7 linked regions of the Homo sapiens genome follow. The protein of the gene in region 6 interacts with the protein of the main gene of each other region in a pairwise test. Each region holds a gene or a part of one and is shown on either strand. Other genes may lie near its edges. The genes, in order: RNF6, CCDC33, FMNL2, TTC12, KIAA1328, MIPOL1 and ARNT2.

Region 1 (3,500 bases), on a different chromosome or scaffold from region 6:
TTTAAAGCTTTGTAACTATGTAAATAGTAATTTAATTTTTATAATATGCTTATAGTAGATATACTTTTCTTTTAGAAAGTTGTCTTTTTGCCATCTTTCATTCATTAAAATCCACAGATGTTCTTTAATTTATTACAAACTTTGTTTTTCTTACAAGTTTTCAATAAAGCTGTAAGGTGTGTCTTAGGAATTGATCTTAAGTTGATTTGCTTTGCTTTCTAGACTCAGAAGTCCCTAGAGAAAGTTCACATGAAGATTCTCTTCTAGAATGGTTGAACACCTTTCGGCGCACAGGAAATGCAACTCGAAGTGGACAAAATGGGAACCAAACTTGGAGAGCTGTGAGTCGAACAAACCCGAACAATGGAGAGTTTCGGTTTAGTTTGGAAATCCACGTAAATCATGAAAATAGAGGATTTGAAATTCATGGAGAAGATTATACAGACATTCCACTTTCAGATAGTAACAGAGATCATACTGCAAATAGGCAACAAAGGTCAACTAGTCCTGTGGCTAGGCGAACAAGAAGCCAAACCTCAGTGAATTTCAATGGTAGTAGTTCCAACATTCCAAGGACTAGGCTTGCTTCAAGGGGGCAAAATCCAGCTGAAGGATCTTTCTCAACATTGGGAAGGTTAAGAAATGGAATTGGGGGAGCAGCTGGCATTCCTCGAGCTAACGCTTCACGCACTAATTTCAGTAGTCACACAAACCAATCAGGTGGTAGTGAACTCAGGCAAAGGGAGGGGCAACGGTTTGGAGCAGCACATGTTTGGGAAAATGGGGCTAGAAGTAATGTTACAGTGAGGAATACAAACCAAAGATTAGAGCCAATAAGATTACGATCTACTTCCAATAGTCGAAGCCGTTCACCAATTCAGAGACAGAGTGGCACTGTTTATCATAATTCCCAAAGGGAAAGTAGACCAGTACAGCAAACCACTAGAAGATCTGTTAGGAGGAGAGGTAGAACTCGAGTCTTTTTAGAGCAAGATAGAGAACGAGAACGCAGAGGTACTGCATATACCCCATTCTCTAATTCAAGGCTTGTGTCAAGAATAACAGTAGAAGAAGGAGAAGAATCCAGCAGATCCTCAACTGCTGTACGACGACATCCAACAATCACACTGGACCTTCAAGTGAGAAGGATCCGTCCTGGAGAAAATAGAGATCGGGATAGTATTGCAAATAGAACTCGATCCAGAGTAGGGCTAGCAGAAAATACAGTCACTATTGAAAGCAATAGTGGGGGCTTTCGCCGAACCATTTCTCGTTTAGAGCGGTCAGGTATTCGAACCTATGTTAGTACCATAACAGTTCCTCTTCGTAGGATTTCTGAGAATGAGCTTGTTGAGCCATCATCAGTGGCTCTTCGGTCAATTTTAAGGCAGATCATGACTGGGTTTGGAGAACTGAGTTCTCTAATGGAGGCCGATTCTGAGTCAGAACTTCAAAGAAATGGCCAGCATTTACCAGACATGCACTCAGAACTGAGTAACTTAGGTACAGATAACAACAGGAGCCAGCACAGGGAAGGTTCCTCTCAAGACAGGCAGGCCCAAGGAGACAGCACTGAAATGCATGGTGAAAACGAGACCACCCAGCCTCATACTCGAAACAGTGACAGTAGGGGTGGCAGGCAGTTGCGAAATCCAAACAATTTAGTTGAAACTGGAACACTACCCATTCTTCGCCTTGCTCACTTTTTTTTACTAAATGAAAGTGATGATGATGATCGAATACGTGGTTTAACCAAAGAGCAGATTGACAATCTTTCCACCAGGCACTATGAGCATAACAGTATTGATAGTGAACTAGGTAAAATCTGTAGTGTTTGTATTAGTGACTATGTAACTGGAAACAAGCTCAGGCAATTACCTTGCATGCATGAATTTCACATTCATTGTATTGACCGATGGCTCTCAGAGAATTGCACTTGTCCGATCTGTCGGCAGCCTGTTTTAGGGTCTAACATAGCAAACAATGGGTAAGGTGATGGGATCTACTCAAATACTGTTTTTTAGTAGAACTGAATGTTCAAGCATTGTTTTGCTGAGTTATTTGTGATTAGCTAACCAGGATGAAAAATAACAGATTATATATAGTTTGAACTATTTTTCGTGTGCTTTTTTAAACTTGTTAAAAAGAAATTTATATAAAATTTAAAATACAAATGTTAAATTATCCAGAAATACAGAATAGTTAATATTGCTAGAACCAAATAACCTCTAAAATGTTTTTATTTTGGTAATTTTGTCATGCTAAGCACTTTTGTATCTGCACAATTCAGTAGGTTAAGAATCAATCTTCTTTTTCTTAATAGTACAGCAGACTTTAGCTTCAAGTTTCATAGGCTTAGTACTTATATCTAGACATTTGTGTCTAAATAAGCTTTTCATTAACTTTTTATTTTAAGGACAGTATCTTTTCATGAAAGAGTATTTGGCTGAATGTTTGCTATATATATGTTACTTGAAATGTTAAATTTAATATGCAGCATACCATAGGTGTATATATAGGTATATAATTTTAAGGTTAAAATATTCAGTCTACAAGTTTGGTTCTTATTTAAGCTTTTGGGCTAATACTGCATATGGCACAATGTTTAATATTGGCAAGTTCATCTCAGAGAAAGGGGATTCAGATATAATTTTAAAGTAGAGATAATTTACTGAAGCGTCTCTGACAATCTAACTTATTAGACAGCAAGCAATATATAATACTGAAAAAGTATTCAGAAATGGAAAATTTACATCATATAGGTTATTTAACTTGTGTTCAGCCTTTTTGTAACTTTTTTGAAAGTGCAAACAATTCTTTGGATTATTAAATAAGGTATACAGTATGCATGGTTTCTCAAATTTAGTTTTAAAATCTAAAAGTCTATAAAGAATCAGATGCATAGGCAATATGTTAAGTTCACTTGGAGGCTAAAAATCTCCAGTGAAAACAAAACGAAAACCTTTAAGAGAATGTAGAGTTTATATAAACACAAAGTATGCATTGAAGATCTGTTTCTACCAATAAACATTAAAACAAAGACTGTATGTGAACTATGTTTTTCTGTTGTTCCACTGTGGTTTATTCACCCTCCACTAATATTTCATACTAGATGCCAGGCAGTGTTATGGGATAGAGTATTTCCCAGACGACAGACAAAAGTCCCTGGCTTCATGGAAAAGACATATTTGCTCTTAGAAACTGAATATCAATTGATAAAGTGAATTATTATTCTTACTTTCATATTTGCTTATTAATATATGACAGGATTTTCTTGTGGTGATACTGTTTGGGCAAAATCACAAGAACAGTACTTAGGCCAGATTCTGTGAGATTTAGAAATATCTCCACATTTAATTTTCCTTTCTGACTGGTGACTATGTTCAATTCATTAGGTTAGATGCATGCCCAGGAATGTTAAGGAGTGCATTTACATGGAGTAAAAGGTTTTCATAAAAGTTGTGACTTTGTTTGGAGTAAATTATTTATGTAGGTCAGTT
Region 2 (3,500 bases), on a different chromosome or scaffold from region 6:
GCTGCCTTGGCCAGAAGGCCCAGGAGAGTTGGGGGGTACATGGAATAAAGCATTCCCTGGAATGCACCCCTGGAGTGAGCAACTGGGTCCAAGCCATGGACTGAGGGGCCTGAGGCTCCTCACTCCAAGGTTGGGCCTCCCAGGCCAGACCCCTGCCTGTCCTCCCTCCTAGTGCTGAAGGGTAAGGGGTAGAATTCACTCTCTCATTGCTCAAGGACTTATGAAGCACCTACTATGTGCCAGGTAGTGAGCCAGAGATGAACAGAAGCATCACATTCCCCTCCCCACTGTGCATTCCAGACCCTGAAAGTGGTTGAGAGTAAAGAACAATGTGAAGCCAGACTGTCGGGGGTCCTAGACCAAGTTTGTTGCCTCCTAGCTGGATACCCATGGAAGCCACTTGGTCCCCAGGCCTCCATCCTCACTGGCAAAGCTGGCACAGTCGTTTTGAGGATCTCAAGCAATGATAGGCAAGGTTCCTGGCATACAGTAGGTGCTCAGTTTGGTCAGTTACCCTCCCCCATCCCTCCTCCGGGCCAGCACTGAACTTTCTTCTAAGCATTTCTTCAATCATGGCACCAGGGGGCTTTACCTTCTCTTAGGCCCCATGAGGAACCCCAATCCCAGGGCTTCAGGATGGGCCATGCAGGGAAGTAAAAGAGAGATGTGCTACTCACCCTGGGAGACTCAGCACTTGAGCTGTAATTCTGGGGGCATCACCCAGGCCCCCTGGCTGTCTGTTCACTTACAACCCAGGCCTTGTTATCACATCTTTACTGGAAAGCAGACAGGCAGTGGTCCTTGTGAGGGTGATGAAATATTCAAATGGAAAAGGGAAGATTTATTATATTGATCTCCTTGGAAGGGCTCACAGGGACCATGAGCTTTAATTATCAGCTCGGAGCCCCAGCGGAGCAATGCCAAGTGATTGTCTGCAGAGGGCTGGATTTATGGCCAGGATCTGCCCCTTAGACACTCTCCTTCCTCTGTGTCTTCTGCCCCAACCCTGTCTCCAGCCCACTGAGTCTGGGAAAGCCGATGAAGCCACTGCCAAGACCCAGTTGTACGCAACAGTCGTTCGGAAGAGCAGCTTCATACCCCGCTACATCGGCTGCAACCACATGGCTCTGGAGGTACCAGGGCTGGGGCCCTCTGGGGTGGTGGTGGGGGTGGGAAAGGGCCAAGCTTTGAGCAGGCCCCACGCCTTGCCCTTAGCCCCCTCTGGCTGACCTGAGGGTGTGGAGCAGAGATGTCAAGAATGGAAAAAGCAACCAGGCCTTTCCAAAATAGCAAAAGGAGTTGTGAAGACAAGCCCTTTGGCAGGGATGACAAGGATGAAGATGCTCAAGCCTCTTCTCCTTCCCTCTCTGTCTTGGAGGTGGCGGGGAGGGGCTCAGCCACACTGCTGCTCCTGGTGTACCGTCTCTGTGCTGCAGTGGGGACCAGAGCCTGTCTCCCCGAATCTTATGCTAGGGGCAGGGGAGAAGCCCCGTGCTCCCCCTGAGCCCACAGCCCAGCAGTTTCCTGCTCTATTCTTCCCCTCCTGGGATAGTGCCTTGGCCCCCAAGCAAAAGTTTAGGGCCTCCTTGAGCTTTCCTTCAGCACTGTGTCTAAAGAGGTTTGACTGGTCTGGCGATTAGGTATTTAGTTTATTCATTCATTTATTCATCCAGCAACTGTTTACAGAGCCTCTTCCATTAGCCAGGACAGGGCTGAGCCCACCTTGGGCCTGGCCACTGCCCCTTGACCCATCACCATCCACCCCCTAGGCCAATTAGCAGCTTTGGGAGGAACTCTTGATGCTCAAAGCAGACATGATGCAGGGACCTGGCCCCTCTCCCATTCCCCCCAACTTTCAAACTGCCCATGGGTGACAGATTCAAATTCAGCTATGGCCTGAGTATGATCAGGGTGGGAGCCACAGGACCCAAGCTCTGAGCTTCCACCTACCCAAACATGGCTGATCTGTTCCTATCCTTCCCACCCCCCTACTTCCCACCAGCACCGTGGGCCTGGCAGGGAAGGAAGCATTCTTTTGCCTTCTTTCACAGCCAGGGACACTGAGACCCAAGGGGAGTATGGTATGGGAGCCAAAACTCCTAACCCACATTTCTACTCCCCTACAGCCACCCCTCTGATGCCAGCATATCAGACCTACAGGCGCCCTCTGCTCCCCGCCACCTTCTATCACGCCCTTTCCTGAGGACAGCCAGCAATTCACACACACACAGAACAAGGAAGAGGGGCAACAGCCTGGCCTTGCTGTCCCCAGGCCGCACCCCACAGGGAGGAGGCCACATCCCCAAGACACAGGCAGAACTTTAGGGCTGCTGTGGAGCTGCCCCACCCCACCCAGCCCTCTGACTTGCCTGGTAGAGCGGTAGAGTAGGGGCCTTCTCTGGCTCACAGCACCCTGCCCACTCTCCTGCCCCAGCACAGATGCCCTCTCCATCCGTGCGACAGGTATGGCCACAGAGCAGCTGCCTGCTCCTGATGGTGAGCGCATGGCAGGAGCAGGAACTTCTGCTACTTCCCAGGCTGTCATGAGCAGGTGTACTTGGGCAGCTGTCTCATTCACACCTGATCAGAGTCCACACAGAACAGGTGCAAATTAGCTGCCACCACCCCCTTTTTAGTCTTACACCTGCTGGGGAGCCTGTGAGCAATAGGGCCTGCCAGCCTCCAGTGAAATCCCTCAGCCCCAGACCCCAGACCCATCCAAAGTGTGAAATGTACCATCAGAGATTCAATCCTTTGAATGTGATGAAGGGATTCAGTCTCCAGAGCCCTCAGTGAGAGCTGCGAGGCCCTAAGGACTATTGTACGTGCCCATCAGCTCACACCTGTGTGGGGTTAGAGGTGGGAAAACCAGCTGAGATGGGTATTGAAAGAGGAGCCTGAAAGGAGGGTGCGGAGGGAGAAAAGGGAGAATGATCCAGAACAAGCCTCACTCCTGGGCCCTCGCCAGCCACAATGGGTTGGTGGGAGCTGCAGGGAGTCTGAGTAGAGGGATCAGCATGTGCAAAGACCCTGTGGCAGAAATAAGAGGGGTAAGTGGCAGGAGTAAAAGAGTCTGGAGCAAGAAGACAGGGGCTGGGGGCCTGTCGGGAGACACGGCAGAGGGGCTTGTGGGGTGTCGGGCAGGGAATAACGTGACCCAGTTCATTTTTAACAAGAGCACTTTTGCCATCATGTGTCAAATTGCCTGGGAAAGAGGATGGATTAGGGAAAGGAACAGAAGTGGAGAGGCTAGTGAGGAGGCAGAGGAATCGAAGGAGCAAGAGGAATGAGAGCCGAGTGGGAGGTGGGTGAGGGCTGAGGGAGAGTGGGAGCCATTGGTGGATACAGGGTGAGGGTCAGGGTCCGGGAGATCAGGGCCTCTTAGGCTGGCAGCAGAGGCGCATGGGGACAGACTCCCTGTCTCCCCTGTCTGCCTTCCAGTGTCCCCCAGGCCCAGACTGAGCAGGGGGTCAGTGAGGGTTGGAGCAAGGTGACGCTGT
Region 3 (3,500 bases), on a different chromosome or scaffold from region 6:
TAGTCATAAATCAACTACCTACAGTTCCTTATAAGATTGATTTATATTTCTAAATCAAAATGAAACAATAATTGCTACTATCCTCTCAGTTCCAGAAAACCACATATGCTGTCCTCAAACCCCAAACCACAAATGCTAAAAATTATGAATAAGAGGAATGTCTATTTGCTTACATTATAATGAATAAAGAAATAACTAGAGTCTTGCATTGAGAACAATCAGCTCATTCTTGACCTAGCATCCTATTTATCTTTCTATTCTCAAGGCTAATTGCTTATATAAGCATGCCAATTTGCCTTGATTATAGGATTCTTAATAAATGAATGTTGTTTACATTTCACAAGTATATTTGAATTTCACTACAGGAAGCCAAGCTCATCAAGTCTTTGTAAATGGTAAAACCAGAGATCAAAGCAAAAGGGCTGCATTGAACCAACAAACAATTAGGCTACAGAATGGAGGCCTAAGCAAAAATGCAATTGATTTATTGATTGTTCTACTCCAGAAGTATACTTCTGGGTCATTGCTTAATCTTACACCATATGTATAGAATTTTCTCACAAATTTTCATTATGATAATTTGGTGGTCATTTCTTAAATAGTTAAATAAAGTCTCTCTACCATTCAACAGGATTTATCCTTTTCTTCTGTATTTTTTCATCTTGTTGCTTTTAGTTGAATCAAATATCTTTCATTTTTTTAACTCTTCTCAACCTTCTCAATTTTGCCTAATCTATCCAAAATTTTGTTTAACTTCTTAAACAATCCCTTTTCTATTACACTCATTATCTTGTTTTCTGCTGGTTTTAACTCATAGGCAAATTGGCTTGGTCTTTGGGGTAGGAAGAAAAAGGGGGAAAACATCTAGCACAGTGGCTGTCAACCTTGGCTGCACATTCAAACCTTCTAGGGAGCTTTTAAAAATCCTGATGCCCAGGTCACATTCCAGACAAATTTATCAGAATTTCTGGGAGTGGAACCCAGGCATTTGTGGGTTTCTGTTTTTGTTTTTGTTTTTGTTTTAGAGATAGTCTTGCTCTGTTGCCCAGACTAGAGTGCAGTGGCATGATCATAGCTCACTGCAACCTCAAACTTCTGGGCTCAAGCAATCCTCCTGCCTCAGCCTCCCAGGTAAGCTGTGACTACAGGCATGCACCACCACATCTGCTAATTTTCATTAGTAGTAGAAATGAGGTCTCCCTATGTTGCTCCACACTGGTCTAGGACTCCTGGCCTCAAGTGATCCTCCTGTCTTGGCCTCCCAAAGTGCTGGGATTACAGGCGTGAGCCACTGTACCTGGCCCACTTGTACTTTCTGAGGATCGCCAAGTGATGTCAATGCACAACCAAGTTTGAGAACCACTACTTTAACTTACCAATACCCTTATTCTAGCTTAAATAAGGTGTTCTGCCAAACTTCCACGGAGAGAAAAAAAACAAGGAAGGGAAGTCAGGTTCCTGAGCAAACCCTCAACCAAGACAGGTCTTGAGACTAGTGAGATGTGTTATTTAAAAGCACCATCAGTCACACGTTAGTGTCCCAGCACCAGGCACATGGTCAAAAATGTGAACTATTTAAGCCGGGTGTGGTGGCTTATGCCTGTAATCCCAGCACTTTGAGATGTCAAGACTGGTGGATCACTTGAGGTCAGGAGTTCAAGACCAGCCTGGCCAATGTGGTGAAACCTTGTCTCTACTAAAAGTACAAAAACTAGCTGGGTGTGGTGGTGCGTGCCTGTAATCCCAGCTACTCAGGAGGCTGAGGCAGGAGGATCGCTTGAACCCAGGAGGCAGAGGTTGCAGTGAGCTGAGATCACGCCACTGTACGCCAGCCCAGATGACAGAAGGAGAATCCATCTCAAAACAAAAAAATATGAACTATTTGATATTTGACATCATTCCCAAAACCAAGCCATGGGCATCTTCTATGCACAGAAGTCAGTCAAGTGAGATTACTTCTGGGGATAGCAGGGTCTAAACACCTCAAGGCTTTCAGCTTCTGTGGCAATGGTTACAGGGGCTTACAAATGCATCAGAACTTCTGCAAAGAAAAAAGGAGACTAAGGTTACATGTGAAATGAGAGTCACCAAAGTCAATTACAGGCTAAACAAGAACACTGAAGATCATGGAATCACAGAAACTATATGAAGTTTGTCCTAGAAACTATACAAGACTAGAAATCATAGAGAGTTTGTGATAATTGCCTACCAGTGAACACTGATGGTCATGTTTTTCTGTTTGTTTTTTCAGAGAGTGAAAAGAATGTACATTTTTATCTGTCAACATCAAATACCATCATACCTGGTAAATAGGGCTGAATGTTGCCCAATTTCAGAATTCCAAGCCCGTCTGGTCCACATCTCCGGGCCTTGGTTGAGATCACAGTTCAAGAGGCAGCTCTCCAACCTAACAGCTCTTCCCTTAGACATTGCTTCCAAATTATATGCTATCAGTTGGAAACTGCATAGTCCTTGGCATTTATGTTGAAAGACAGGTTTCTGGAAAGGAGGAAGGGGTCACTGGGGAGGAGGGAGGAAGATCACCCTGCAGTATGAACAGATGGAATTCTAAAGGGAAGACAAGCAATGAGCTATCTCTGTCCCCAGTGTTCAAGTAGGTGAGAACTAAGAAGGTACATGAAGGCTCTCTAAGGAACCATGACTCCAAAGCCTAGGGACACACTTCTTATTTGCAGGGATGGCAGTGGCACTCCATAAAGAGCCGCTCTACAAGATGAGATCTGCCAAGCAACTGTATAGCTTGTAACTCACCTTCCCTCCTAAGTTCCTCTAGGCTGTTCCTTCTTTTATAAGGATTCAATGCTTTGTTCCTAAAAGTACTCCAGTTACAGCGTCCTCTTGCAAAGGAGGGGCAATCATCTATAATCAGTGCTTCTTGTATTAGCTACTTTTTTGACATCTATTACTTGCTTAAACCTGAGGGCTGGAGAGCCCACTTTACCTTGTCCCTATTCCCCAAGCTCTAAATATGAAAAAGAAGAGCACTGTTCATTAAGACCAAACCCTTTAAGCAACAGTTCTTATAAAGTCAAATGAATTTCCAGAACAAACATCAGCCCATACGTATCTTTTTCTTCTTTAAGCCCAGGAAGCACCTACCAGGAGATCTTTCCCCACTCTCAGGTGTTATAATTCTATGTCTAGAACCTGCAAGTTGCAGACTCACCTCAAAGAGGGCAACTTTCGAGCCAATAATGTACTTCCTATCTTCTTGGGCTGCAAAGGGCCTTCCAATCACCAGTGTTTGTCACACAGATTATCTGAATAACTTTAACGGAGAACTCACCATCCATTTTCAACAACTCTACATGTTAGAATATTTTTCCCTATGCTCATATGACTTTCAGTCACTGACCCTGGGGAATTCTACTCTTTAGACCACACAGAACACCCCTACACACATTTCCACCTGAAAGCTCTTCAAAAGCCAATGTCAACTAATGAATCACAATGTATTATGTTCTGGAAATTTTGTTTTC
Region 4 (3,500 bases), on a different chromosome or scaffold from region 6:
CTTTTGATCCATAAGCTTTCCTGGAGGGAGTGGGTGTGTGCGGAAGTCTAGACATCAGCTTTCCAGGGCCTGGCCTTTGGGGAGGACAGTCCACCCAACAGCGTAGTTCCTGCACGCAGCGCATTAATGGTGATCAACGGTGATTACCCAGGCTTACCGTTCCTGCTGCACACTGCTTGCCAGAGCTTGAGAACAGACACACAGACCATTTCTTCAACTGCATCATTTCCTGCTGTGGAAAAACACCTAGAATGGACAAAGGAGAGCTATCTTAAAAGTCTGAAAATCAGTCTTGATTTTCTTTTCCATTTGGTTTTATTTCACCCCTAGATTCACCAAATACAGGTTTGAGAAAGTATAGTTTTATAATCCAGAGCCATGGGTCACCAGGATCAATCACGGAACCATGAGTCCCAGGCCACGGATGCAGACTGAGGAAGCCAGGGCTGCACAGAGGCTGGGCAGTGAGCCAGGGCCATGGGCGATGGCTGCACTGGGACCAATGAACTGTGGCTGAGCACACAGACATGTACTGGTGACTCCAACCCACACGGGTATCCTAAGCCTCAGGAAGCACACCAGAACAACTGAAATGAAAATACAGTCACTTTAGCAAACTGCATCCTACCATACAGGTCTTTCTTCAGATGAAATTATAAATGGGATTGGCCCATTTATATTTATATCACTTCTTGATATGATCAGCAAATTCCAAAAGAAGAAATGAACAAATGACAACCTGGCAAAAACTGGTGGGAAAGCAGCAAGAATGATCATTTCTCTGACTTTGAAGAGCTTAGAGGAGCCCTGGGAAGTGCTGCTGTTCCTCTCTCTTCAATTGTTTCCTTTTTTTGAGACTGAATCTGGTTGTATCGCCTAGGCTGGAGTACAGTGGCGTGATCTCGGCTCACTGCAACCTCCGCCTCTCAGATTCAAGCGATTCTCGTGCCTCAGCCTCCTGAGCAGCTGGGATTACAGGTGCCTGCCACCATGCCCAGCTAATTTTTGTATTTTTAGTGGAGTCGGGGTTTCACCATGTTGGCCAGGCTGGTCTCAAACTCCTGACCTCAAGTGATCCGCCCGCCTTGACCTCCCAAAATGCTGGGATTACTGGCATGAGCCACCGCGCCCAGCCTCAATTGTTAGCTGCAGTGTAACTCCAATGTCTTGAGGGAAAGCACTCAAAGATGTTCGTGGAGTAGCTTTGCACTCCTGGAGAGCCCCCCACTACTGACTGAAGGGGGGTAATGTTCAGAAACGTGACTGTCTATGTGCCTCGTGTCTGATTTCATAAGCAGTGGTTATCTTCCCTTGCTTTGCTGCTGGGCTGTCTCTATGAACATCCCTACCTTCTTATGACCTCGTTGTCACTGATGATACTAAATCCATTGTGCATTCTGAATAAAGTTTGTTCTGTGCCTGAAACAGATACAAAGAAAACCACTTCAGACTCCCAAACTGGCTGGCTGGTGTCTCGCTGCAACACAGCCACCTGCTAATGAGAAACCTAATATGGAATGCCACGGTACCCACGTGAATGGTTTGGCAGGAACAAATGAACTTTACATTTTGAAACATACAATGGTCAGCAGCCTCTCAGCGTCAGAGGCCTCAGTGCCTCTCAGGCGGAGGGACTGTTTAGAGAAGGAGAGCAGAGCTGGGGTGGCCCCGAGGGCTATCTGCACAGCTCATCATTCTGTAATCTTCAGAGAGCCTCCCAGAGCTGCTTAACCTATGGGAAGTACCAGCATATCCATCTGTTCTTAAATATTTATTTCAAAGCTATTTCCAAGCTCCAGAGAGGAATTTATAATCTCCAAGAAACTGCTGAAGGGGATATTTGTGTGCCCTCCATTGTACACTAAAGAGAAGTCAGACACTCCATCTATTTGTACAAACAACATGCTGTCACTGAGTATAGAGATTATTTAAGCCTTGGTAACAATGTTTACAAGAGCTAGTAAAAGAGAACAGTATGGCCCTCATTAGTAGGAGAGCTGATGTTTGCTCTGAAACCATTTTCACATCCTATGCAGCCATTAACTGTAACTGGGTGAACCTTACAGTTTAACCTACAAAATTCTGTCTTCCATTCCTCCACAGTGGAGGGAAGGTGTACGAGGTGGTATGGGATGCTTGAGGTGTCTGTGGGGGTATGTGTGGAGTACACGCAGGATGTGCATGGGGTGTGTGGTGAAAATGTGAGGGTGGAGTGTGCGCAGGATATGTGGACTGACATGAGTACTTATGGTGTGAGTGTGCTGTGTGTGGTATGTGGTGTGTGTGTAATACAAGGATATATTCAAGTGAGTGAAAGCTGAGTGCATGTGTGGTGTATGTAAGTATATATCGAGTGTGTGCCACGTGTACGTGTTGTGTTGTGTATGTTTATTGCATGTGTGCTGAGTGTACGCATGCTCTGTAGAGAGGATGGAGCAGAAGTCGGAGGACATTTCTTGTGCACCCCTTTTAGCAGCTACATTAGCGTATATCTTTAATCAATATTTGTGGAAGGAAGGGAGGGATTCTTGGCCTGGTAAAGGCAGACCTCTGAATGTGTCCCTTCACACTGACAGCACTCATGAGATCACACACATCTCTGGCTTACACTCATTTATCATTTCAGTCAGGATCTCAATCCCCCCAGCATAGAACAAGGGGATCTGGTCAGGCTTGGAAAGGGTCTCCAGGAGGTTCTTGGTGGTCACGGCTGTGTTCTTTCCTGAATCCAGCAGTTCGTGGGCTTCCTTTTCTTGAAGGTCTGCTTTTTCCTGAAGATCTACTTGATTCAGGTAACCTAGAAAAACAAGAAAGGAAAGCAAAACAAAACCCTAACAATCAACAATACCACACAAGAAGCAACCTTTTTTTTTCCTTTCTTTTGAGGATGGGAGTTTGAGAAGCATAAAGCATTAAAATAATTAAAACTCTTCGTTAGCAAGGAAAATTTTAGAAACAGTCTAAATCTACAACCAGAATCTTAAACCTTGTTGGGGATTCAAGGGAGTCTAAAAGTGTCTAAGGGAGGATGGTGTAGAAAATGAAGAAGGAAAATATTACTATTTGCAAGGGAGCACAGCAAACAGAGGAGCAGAGTGGGCTGGTTAACACAGAGGACCCAACTGTGCAGGAAAGAGGATCCGCCGCTGCCTAGTGGCCAAGGGCAGTGAAAGCACGGAAGGCATTCTAAGGCAGGGGGCAGAGGGAGGTGGAGTTCAGATGAAGGACCTCAGCAGGAACGTGCTCACCTTTCACCTGGGTTTGCAGCTTGGGGTTTATTTCTAAGATCTTCTTATAACACTCTCTAGACTGGAAAAAAGAAACAAGACCTTGAAGAGTGGTTGGGGTAAAGGTGATTATGAGAAAGACACTGGGTGTCATTGGGCTTGGCTGCTTCATTATTTTCTCCTCACCTCCTCCTGCTCCCAGTGCAGGAGACAGGCATAGGAACACAATGTGCATTTGACATTTTTGTTCAGGCGTCTCCAGTTCTAGGGGGC
Region 5 (3,500 bases), on a different chromosome or scaffold from region 6:
CATTTCCCAATTTGATGAAAACTATAAACCCACAGTCCCAAAAAGCTCAACAAACCTCAAACAAAAGAGATACTTTAAAAATTACTCCAAGGTAGGATGGGCATGGTGGCTCACACCTGTAATCCCAGCACTTTGGGAGGCCGAGGCGGGCAGATAATGAGGTCAGGAGTTCGAGACCAGCCTGACCAACATGGTGAAACCCCATCTCTACTAAAAATACAAAAATTAGCCGGGTGTGGCGGTGCACGCCCGTAATCCCAGCTACTCAGGAGGCTGAGGTAGGAGAATCACTTGAACCTGGGAAGCGGAGGTTGCAGTAAACCAAGATCGTGCCACTGCACTCTAGCCTGGGCGACACAGCAACTCTGCACCTCAAAAAAAAAAATTACTCCAGGGTATACTATAACCAAATTGCTCAAAACCAGTGATAAGAAGAAAATCTTAAAAGCAGCCATATTTAAACACATACACACAGAAAAATAAGGAGGAATAAAAATGACAGCCAACTTCTTAAAAACAATACAAGCCAGGCAACAGTGCAGCAACATCTTTAAAGCACTGAATGAATAAAACTATCAACTCAGAATTTTATAACCAGCAAAAATATCTTTTGAAAAGGAAAGAGAAATAAAGACTTTTCAGACATACGTGAGCTGAAAAAATTCTTTCCTAGCATACCTGAACTAATGTTAAAGGAAGTCTTTTAGGAAATCTGGATACACGTGAAAGAATGAAAACACCAGAAATGGTAACTACATGAGTAGATTTAAAAGACTTCTGTTGCATTTGTAAAATTTCTTTAAAAGGCAATTAAAATAAAATGCATCCAAAATGGAATAAAGGCATCCAATAAGAATATGTGAACTATCTCTATTCACAGACAACTTCATCTTATATAGAGAAAATGGTAAGGAATTCACAAAAGAACTATTAGATTAGAAATAGTTTGATAAAGTTGCAGGATACAAGATCAATTCACAAATCAACTGAATTTCTATATACTAGCAATAAACAATCCAACAGTGAAATTCAGAAACAACTGTGTTTCTAATAACATCAAAAAGTATAAAACATTTGCTGATTCTATAATGCCTATGGAAACACTGGGACCCAAAATAGCCAAAACAATCTTGAAAAAGAAGAAGTTGGAGGACTTATACTTCCTAATTCCAAAAATAAAAATATAAATCAATGGAACAGAATACAGAGAGTCCAAAAATAAACCCTTACACTTATGGTCAACAGATATTTGACAAGGGTGCCAAGAAATTCAAAGGGGAAAGGACAGTTTTTTTAACAAATGGTGCTGGGACAACTGGATATCTACATGCAAAGGAATAAAGTTAAACTACCACCTCACCCCATATACAAAAATTAACTCAAAATGGAATGAGAACTAAATGTAGGAGTAAAACCTTTAAAATTCTTAGAAAAAAAATAGGCACAAATATTTGTGACCTTGGATTAGGCAACAATTTCTCAGATATGACACCAAAGCAAAGGAGACAGAAGAAAACACTAGATAAACTGAACTTCATCAAAATTTTAAACTTCTGTGCTTCAAAGAACACCAATAAAAAAGTGAAAAGGCAATGCATAGAATGAGAAAAAATATTAGCAAATAATGTATCTGATAAGGGACTTGTAAATGGAATTTAGAAAGAACTCATAACTTAACAGTACTAAGACAAATAACTCAGTTAAAAAAGGATATGACTAGATATTTGTCTGACGAAGATACACAAATAGCCAAGAAGCACATAAAAACATGCTCATCATCATTTAGTCATTAAGGAAATGCAAATCAAAATCACATTGAATTACCACTTCACACCCACTAGGGTGGCCATCCTCAAAAAAGATGGACATAAATGTTGGCAAGAATGTGGAGAAATCTGAATCCTCATACATTGCTAGTCGAATGTAACATGGTGTAACCACTTTAAAAAACAGTTTGGAATTTTGTCAAAAGGTTAAACATAAAACTACACGACACAGCAATTCACTTATAGGTATATACACAAGAGAACTGAAAATATATGTCTACACAAAAACTTGTATATGAATGATCATGGAAGAATTATTCATAATAGCTAGAAAGTTGAACATGTCCATTGACTGATAAATGGATAAACAAAATGTATATTCAGACATAAAAAGGAATGAAGTAATGATACAGAATAGATGAACCTTGAAATCATTATGCTAAATCAAAGAAGCCAGTCACAAAAGGCCACATATTATGTGATTTCCTTTTATATGCAACATCAATAACAAGCAAATCTATAGAGACTGAAAGCAGATTAGTGTTTGCTAGGGGCTGAGATGACTGGGGAATGAGAAGTGCCTAATTGGTATGGGGTTTCTTTCTAGAGTGATAAAAATGTTTCGAAACTAGATTGTGGTGATGGATCCACAACTCTGTGAATATAAACACATACAAAATCAAAATAATAAACTGTACACTTTAAAAAGGTGAATTTTATATGCAAATTATATCTCAATTTGAAAAAAAAGAGAGTTGACTAAAGCAAATGTAATATGTATTTTGGGGTCTGTGCACATAAGTAAAATGTATGACAACAATATCAAAAAAGTCAGGAGGTGAGAAATAAAGTACAGTGTTGAAAGGTCCTTAAACTATAGGTAATGTGGGAAAATATCACTTGATAATAGGCTATGATAAATGAAAGATGTATACTATAATCTCTAAAGAAGCCACTGAAATAATCCAATCAAAAGTTATAGCCAATAGGACAAAAATATGAACTTAATCTAAAAGAAGGCTATTGTTCAATGTAAAACAAATCAACCATTATGTGAAAAAACATTTTTTAACTTTTTTTGATAAGAACTTGCAAATTCAACTATTCACACCCCAGTGTGAAGTGGGTACACTGGTACAAGTAACGTAAAGTAGGCCTTTTGATTCAATCACAGTAAAATCCTGTAGTAATAAATGAGGCACTGGAAATATCTTTGAGAACATAATTCACAGACTGAAAAAAGTTTTCTATAAAAGGTCTGATAGTAAATGTTTTTAGCTTGTGGGCATGCAGTCTCTGTAGCAACCCTGCTATTGTAACACAAAAGCAACCATAGACAATTATGTAAAACAATGAGCACAGCTGTATTCCAAAAAACCTTTATTTATAAAACAGGCAGAAGGATTTGGTCCACAGGTTATAGATTCCAGAACATTCATATACAAGTTTTGTGTAGACATCCTAGTGAGTGTGAAGTGGTATTGAACAACTCTGGTTGCAGAGGGAAAATATAACAAAAATTAAAGTAAAATAAACTGGTCAGATAGGACATGTGCCAAAGGAATGCACCGATACTATTACTATGCCTAGTCATTGATTTGTCCCTCATCTTTACGAGGGTTCATCTATCAAATAAATTCACAAGAATAAAAATCAAAAAGGATGCCTAATTAAAAAGCAATTCTCATCAGTTTGATTTACCAATGCCACACAGATCAGAATGTAGTTCTTTTG
Region 6 (3,500 bases):
AGCAATTAAATTATAACCAAAAACAAGTATGGGATTTATAGTTAAAACTGTTAATAATTGGTTTTTCAAGATATAAAAATAGCATGCCCTCAGCCTGGCATGGTGGCTCACACCTGTAATCCCAGCACTTTGGGGGGCTGAGGTGGGTAGATCACCTGAGGTCAGGAGTTCAAGACCAGCCTGGCCAATGTGGTAAAACCCCATCTCTACTAAAAATACAAAAATTAGCCAGGCATGATGGCACGTGCCTGTAATCCCAGCTACTCGGGAGGCTGAAGCACAAGAATCGCATGAACCTGGGAGGCAGAGGTTGCAGTGAGCCAAGATCGTGCCACTGCACTCCAGCCTGAGCAACAGAGAGAGACTCCATCTCAAAAAATAATAATAATAATAATAATAATATCATATCCTCAAATAAGTTTAAACTGATAAAAACAGATTAAAGCTTTTCTGATATTAATGAATAGTGTAGTTGTCTATTGCTACCTATATTAGTCTGTTTTCACACTGCTGATGAAAACATACCCAAGACTAGGCAATTTGCAAAAGAAAGAGGTTTAATAGACTCACAGTTCCACATGGATCGAGAGGCCTCACAATCATCATGGAAGGTAAAAGGCACATTTCACATGGTGGTGGCAGGAGAGAATGAAAGCCAAGCGAAAGGGTTCTATAAAACCATCAGAACTCACCTGGACTTATTCACTACCAGGAGAACAGTATGGGGGAACTGCCCCCATGATTCAAGTATCTCCCACTGGGTCCCTTCCACCACATGAGGGAATTACGGGAGCTACAATTCAAGATGAGATTTGAGTGGGAATACAGCCAAACCATATCATTCCGCCCCTGGTTCCTCCCAAATCTCATGTCCTAACATTTCAAAACCAATCATGTCTTCCCAACAATCCCCCAAAGTCTTAACTCATTTCAGCATTAACTCAAAAGTCCACAGCCCTAAGTCTCATCCAAGACAAGGCAAGTCTTTTCCACCTGTGAGCCTGCAAAATCAAAAGCAAGTTAGTTCCTAGATACAATGGGGGTACAGGCATTGGGTAAATACAGCCATTCCAAATGGGAGAAATTGGCCAAAATGAAGGGGCCATAGGCCCAATGCAAGTCCAAAATCCAGCAGGACAGTCAAATCTTAAGGCTCCAAAATTATCTCCTTTGACTCCATGTCTCACATGCAGGTCACACTGATGCAAGAGGTGGGTTCCTACATCTTGGGCAGCTCTGCCCCTGTGGCTTTGCAGGGTACAGCCTCCCTCCCAGCTGCTTTCACGTATCAGTGTTGAGTGTCTGAGGCTTTTCCAGGAGCATGGTGCAAGCTGTCAGTGGATCTACCATTCTGGGGTCTGGAGGATGGTGGCCCCCTTCTCACAGTTCCACTAGGCAGTGCTCCAGTAGGGACTTTGTGTGGGGGATCCAATCCCACATTTCCCTTATGCACTGCCCTACCAGAAGTTCTCCATGAGGGCCCCATCCCTGTAGCAAACTTCTGCCTGGATATCCAGGCATTTCCATATATCCTCTTAAATCTAGGCGAAGATTTGCAAACCCCAGTTCTTGACTTCGGTGCACTCACAGGCTCAACATCACATGGAAGCTTCCAAGGCTTCGGGCCTGCGCACTCTGAAGCCATGGCCTGAGCTCTACATTGGCCCCTTTCAGCCAAGGCTGGCGTGTCTGGGACACAGGGTACCAAGTCCTTGGACATAGCATGGGGACCCTAAGCTTGGTCCATGAAACCATTTTTTCCTCCTAGGCCTTTGGGCCTATGATGGGAGGGGCTGCCATGAAGACCTCTGACATACCCTGGGGACATTTTCCCCATTGTCTTGGGGATGAACATTTGGCTCCTTGTTACTTAGGCAAATTTCTGCAGCTGGCTTGAATTTCTCCTCAGAAAATGGGTTTTTCTTTTCAATTGCAGGGTCAGGCTGCAAATTTTCTGAACTTTTATGCTCTGCTTCCCTTATAAAACCGAATGTGTTTCAGGCACATGTATGTTTATATGGTACTATTCACAACAGCAAAGACTTGGAATCAACCCAAATGTCCAACAATGACAGACTGGATTAAGACAATGTGGCACATTTACACCATGGAATACTATGCAGCCATAAAAAAGCATGAGATCATGTCCTTTGCAGGGACATGGATGAAGCTGGAAACCATCATTCTGAGCAAACTATCACAAGGACAGAAAACCAAACACCGCAAGTTCTCACTCATAGGTGGGAACTGAACAATGAGATCACTTGGACACAGGGTAGGCAACATCACACACCAGGGCCTGTTGGGGGATGGGGAGCTGGCGGGGGACAGCATTTGGAGAAACACCCAATGTAAATGATGAGTTGATGGATGCAGCAAACCAACATGGCACATGTATATACCTATGTATCAAACCTGCACTTTGTGTACATGTACCCTAGAACTTAAGGTATTAAAAAAAAAAAACTGAATGTGTTTTAACAGCAGCCATGTCACCTCTTGAAAGCTTTGTTGCTTAAAAATTTCTTCCACTGGCTGGGTGCAGTGGCTTATACCTGTAATCCCTGCACTTTGGGAGGCCGAGGTGGGTGGATCACCTGAGGTCAGGAGTTCCAGACCAGCCTGGCCAACATGATGAAATCCTGTCTCTACTAAAAATACAAAAAATTAGCTGGGCGTGGTAGTGCATGCCTGTAATCCCAGCTACTCAGGAGGCTGAAGCAGGAGAATCACTTGAACCCAGAGGTGGAGGTTGCAGTGAACTGAGATCGTGTCACTGCACCCCAGCCTGGACAATAAAAGCAAAACTCCGTCTCAAAAAAAAAAACAAAAAACTTATTCCATCAGATATCTTAAATCATCTCTCTCAAGTTCAAAGTTCGACAAATCTCTGGGGCAGGAGCAAAATGCCGCCAGTCTCTTTGCTTTTGCTACAGTTCTCAACAAGTTCCTCATTTCTATCTGAGACCACCTCAGCCTAGATTTTATTGTCCATATCACTATCAGCATTTTGGGCAAAGCCATTCAATAAGTCTCCAGGAAGTTCCAAACTTTCCCACATTTTCCTGTCTTCTTCTGAGCCCTCCAAACTATTCCAGCCTCTGCTTGTTACCCAGTTTCAAAGTCACTTCCACATTTTCAGGTATCTTTTCAGCAGCACCCCACTCTACTGTATTAGTCCATTTACTGTGTTAGTCTGTTTACTGTGTTAGTCCGTTTTCACGCTGCTAATAAAGACATACTTGAGACCAGGCAATTTACAAAAGAAAGAGGTTTAATGGGCTCGCAGTTCCACGTGGCTTGGGAGGCCTCACAATCATCGTGAAAGGTGAAAGGCACATCTCACATGGCGGCAGCAAAAAAGAATGAAAGCCAAGCAAAAGGGGTTTCCCCTTATAAAACCATCACATCTCATGGACTTATTCACTACCATGAGAACGGTATGAGAGAAACCACCCATGATTCAATTATCTCCCACTGGATCCCTCCCACAACATGAA
Region 7 (3,500 bases), on a different chromosome or scaffold from region 6:
CAAAAGGAGGGAAAGAGAAAGAGAGAGAGAGAGAGAGATGGTAGACAGATGATAGGTAGGTAGATAGATGATAGATAGATAGATAGATAGATAGATAGATAGATAGATAGATAGATAGATAGATAAAAATGAATGGATTGCTGGATCTGGAAAAGATGCAGAAATAATCTCCCTATGACCTTGTGTCTTAGTGAATCTCAATAAAGACAGACAATAAAGCAGTAAATGCAAGCATTGTTTGGGAACTATGGTACTTGGACCAAAAGCTCTATGTTCTGTGAACTAACTTACCCCAAGGAAAGCATTTAGAGAACCTGGTAAATGGCTGGCCAACATCCCTCTTTGTTTCCTTCTCCAGCCCAGATCTCTGGGAGCATGTGTCCCACTGCCTCCATGACAGTTCCACTTGCTTGTCGCACAAGCAGCTCAACTCAGCTGTCCAATACTGAAGCCTGGAGCACACCCCACAGGCCCCCTGCCTCTCACTAACTTCCTGTCACCTCCAACCACCCAGGTGTTGGACAGAAAGCTGGGAATCGTCCTTGACTCTTCCCCTAACTCCTTACAATGAAGTCATGATGATTCTGCCCCAAGCAGGACATGTCGTGCCCAAGGGATGGACAGGGAAGTAACTGGTGCCCCTGGAGTTGTTCAGCATGGCATCCCTGCCCCCAGTATAACTCAAATCCACCTCCCTCTCTCTCATTCTCTACTGACAGCCCCTGACCTAAGTTAGCACCATCTAACTGGAGTCTTACTTTTCCTCCCGCTTCAGTCCAATTGGCTCTCCACACAGCAGCCAGAAGCAGCATTTAAAAGTGCAGGTCAGATCATGCCCCTTGCTCAAACCCCCTTCAGTAGATTTCCAGCGCTTTTTAAAAATGAAGTCTCAGTCCCTAACCCAAAAGTGGTCCCCCGTGAGCTGGCCTCTACCGCAGCTCCAGCTTCTCACACCGCTTTCACCCTTGCTCCCTGTTCTCCAGCTCTTCCCAACTCAGGGCCTTTGAAGGGGCTCTTCCTTGTGCCTGGAATGCTCTTCCTCACATTTCTCATCATTCCTTGGAGCTTGACTCAAGGGTCAACTCCTCAGAGAGGCTTTCACTGACTTCAAATGGCCTTTGCTAATCCTCTAATTTAGGTCCCTTGGTTATTTTATCTCAGGGGATCATTTCTTCATAACATTTACACTTTTCATAACTAACCCAATTGTGTTACTCTTTTGTGACTATTTGTCTTGCTAGCAAGCAGCATGATGGTAGGAGTTATACCTAATTTGCTCACCACAGTGATCCCAGAACCAAGATCAGTCCCCGGCACATAGTAGTTACTCAGTAAGTATTAGCCCCTAGCAGCTTCATTCGTCATAATTGCCAAAACTTAGAAGCAACCCAGATGTCCTTCAGTAGGTGAATGAATAAATAAACTGTGGTACATCCAGACAATGGAATATTCTTCGGCACCAAAACAAATGAGCTATCAAGCCACTGAAAGATACAGAGAAAATGTAAATGCATATTATTAAGTGAAAAATGCCAGTTTGAAAAGGCTACGTAATGCATGAATCCAATTACATGACTTTCTGGAAAAGGCAAAACTATGGAGACAGTAAAAACATCAGTGGATGCCAAGAATTCGGAAGTGGGAGGAATGAATAGGTGGAGCATGGAGAATTTTTAGGGCAGTGAAAATACTCTGCATGATATTATAACGGTAGATATAAGTCATATACATTTGTCCAACCCATAGAACGTCTACCAACCATCAAGAGTGAATCCTAATGTGAACTATGGACTTTGGGTGATAATGATGTGTCATTGTAGGTTCATCAATTGTAACACATGTACTACTCTGCTGGGGAATGTTGATCATGGGGGAGGTTGTGCATGTGTGGGGGCAGGGGATATATGAGGAATCTCTGTGCCTTCCTTTCAATTTTGCTGTGAACCTAAAACTGCCCTAAAAAAGGAGCCTTTAAAAATTAACTTTTTAAAATTCATTAATTAATTAAAATAAATATATACTGAAGGAATAAATAAATCTCTTTTTTCAGGTATCACTTCTTCCTTTTTTTCTTTCTTTTGATGAAAGCCAAAATGCCATCAGCTCATTTTTTTCTTATAAGTCCATAAAAGAATGATGTGTCCTGCAACTGATGGGCTCGTAGATTCAATGAAGGACAGGATATAGAGAAATTGGGCTCAACTGTATGTCCAGCTGGTTTGGCTGTTCCAGCCCTACTCAAGGCAGGACAGCTTGCAAGCATAGCGCACACGTCTCAAAGGCTCAAAACCTACCCACATTCTTGGGTGTCCTGCTGAGTCCCCAAGAGCACTGAGGAAGCAACCACTTGACAGTATTCCATATTTTCACAAATCTTGTCTGCCTCACACGCCAGCCATCAGCGCAAAATGACCATTCCTAAATTCTCTATAAGTCAAAATCTCTGTCTTCAAAAGGCCCACGTTCAGAAGTTACCTCCCATAAGACTTCCTCTGGCTCCCCATGATGATATGAACATGCCTAGTCAACGTTCATTTCATTCCACCTGGTGTTATTAAGTTAGTCTACCTATGCCTCCCCTAGTAGACTTAGAACCCCCTGAGGTCAAGAAATATTCTCCCTCATCTCCACATTGCTCTATTCCCTGCAGACAGCTTGGCATATCAAAGATATCCAATCAGTTCAACAAGCTGATTCAAATGTCCCTCCATCTAAGGCAATTTGTCCAGAGAATCTTCCTGCACTATACAATTAATTCCAAATTGAAATGCCAAAGACCAGAAACCTGGAAGTGGGGAAAAAATCCAATAATTGATTTCAGAAAAAAAAGTGGAATTCCAAATCTCTTAAAACATAATTTTGAAATCCTTTAAAACATATGAGCCTTATTAATTACTCTGCAAATACTCATCTCAGAGAATGTCCACATAATGCTTAATTCCTAATGATTACTGGTCTGAATTTGTAGCTGATTCCCTCATGCTTAAATTACAAAAGATTAAGATGGAACAATGACATTGGGGAAACAATCTCCTTCTTAATTGTGCCATTTCAGCTGCAAATACCCTTTTATGTATATAACTAATTCAAATCTTCACTATTTCCTATACATCAGAAACACTTAAATGTCATTCAAAAAGGCAGCAAAACAACACACACACACACACACACAGACACACAAAACGGAAGATTCTATGACTTCACTCTCTAGTCTAAAGGATATATGTCATTCCTGGCCAGAGAGAAAAGAGAAAATCAGCCAATACAACAGTTTCAGTGACCAACGTAAGGACTGTAAATGACCCAGAAGGAGGAGGCACCAGGGGCCACAGGATATGAGGAATATAACCAGGACTGTCATAGCAGAAGTCATGAGGAGAATATCTGGGAGCCCAATCCTTTCTTCTCCTCTCCCAGAGTAGCTGGTAGAATCCTAACCTAAAACCCCAACAGGGGACCTTGAAGGAGCAGATTCCAAATTTGGACCTGTATTATATCCA

Evidence for each region.
Region 1: the proteins of MIPOL1 (region 6) and RNF6 interact in a two-hybrid assay, tested with the Homo sapiens proteins (one large-scale study listed by BioGRID and IntAct).
Region 2: the proteins of MIPOL1 (region 6) and CCDC33 interact in a two-hybrid assay, tested with the Homo sapiens proteins (one large-scale study listed by BioGRID).
Region 3: the proteins of MIPOL1 (region 6) and FMNL2 interact in a two-hybrid assay, tested with the Homo sapiens proteins (one large-scale study listed by BioGRID).
Region 4: the proteins of MIPOL1 (region 6) and TTC12 interact in binary tests that used the Homo sapiens proteins (3 or more experiments, as listed by UniProt).
Region 5: the proteins of MIPOL1 (region 6) and KIAA1328 interact in binary tests that used the Homo sapiens proteins (3 or more experiments, as listed by UniProt).
Region 7: the proteins of MIPOL1 (region 6) and ARNT2 interact in a two-hybrid assay, tested with the Homo sapiens proteins (one large-scale study listed by BioGRID and IntAct).

The regions. Positions count from the first base shown.
Region 1 is NC_000013.11:26,212,315-26,215,814, reverse strand, and holds the end of RNF6 (E3 ubiquitin-protein ligase RNF6), read left to right. Parts: intron 1-222; coding exon 223-1,991; 3' UTR 1,992-3,040; downstream 3,041-3,500. UniProt on the Homo sapiens protein: E3 ubiquitin-protein ligase mediating 'Lys-48'-linked polyubiquitination of LIMK1 and its subsequent targeting to the proteasome for degradation. Negatively regulates axonal outgrowth through regulation of the LIMK1 turnover.
Region 2 is NC_000015.10:74,267,326-74,270,825, forward strand, and holds part of CCDC33 (coiled-coil domain-containing protein 33), read left to right. Parts: intron 1-1,016; coding exon 1,017-1,133; intron 1,134-3,500.
Region 3 is NC_000002.12:152,341,674-152,345,173, reverse strand, and holds part of FMNL2 (formin-like protein 2), read right to left. Parts: intron 1-3,500. UniProt on the Homo sapiens protein: Plays a role in the regulation of cell morphology and cytoskeletal organization. Required in the cortical actin filament dynamics.
Region 4 is NC_000011.10:113,338,583-113,342,082, reverse strand, and holds part of TTC12 (tetratricopeptide repeat protein 12), read right to left. Parts: intron 3,492-3,500; coding exon of another isoform or gene 3,414-3,491; intron 3,310-3,413; coding exon 3,249-3,309; intron 2,798-3,248; coding exon 2,609-2,797; intron 1,420-2,608; coding exon 1,350-1,419; intron 247-1,349; coding exon 158-246; intron 1-157. UniProt on the Homo sapiens protein: Cytoplasmic protein that plays a role in the proper assembly of dynein arm complexes in motile cilia in both respiratory cells and sperm flagella.
Region 5 is NC_000018.10:36,835,627-36,839,126, reverse strand, and holds part of KIAA1328 (protein hinderin), read right to left. Parts: intron 1-3,500. UniProt on the Homo sapiens protein: Competes with SMC1 for binding to SMC3. May affect the availability of SMC3 to engage in the formation of multimeric protein complexes.
Region 6 is NC_000014.9:37,204,437-37,207,936, reverse strand, and holds part of MIPOL1 (mirror-image polydactyly gene 1 protein), read right to left. Parts: intron 1-3,500.
Region 7 is NC_000015.10:80,407,382-80,410,881, reverse strand, and holds part of ARNT2 (aryl hydrocarbon receptor nuclear translocator 2), read right to left. Parts: intron 1-3,500. UniProt on the Homo sapiens protein: Transcription factor that plays a role in the development of the hypothalamo-pituitary axis, postnatal brain growth, and visual and renal function. Specifically recognizes the xenobiotic response element (XRE).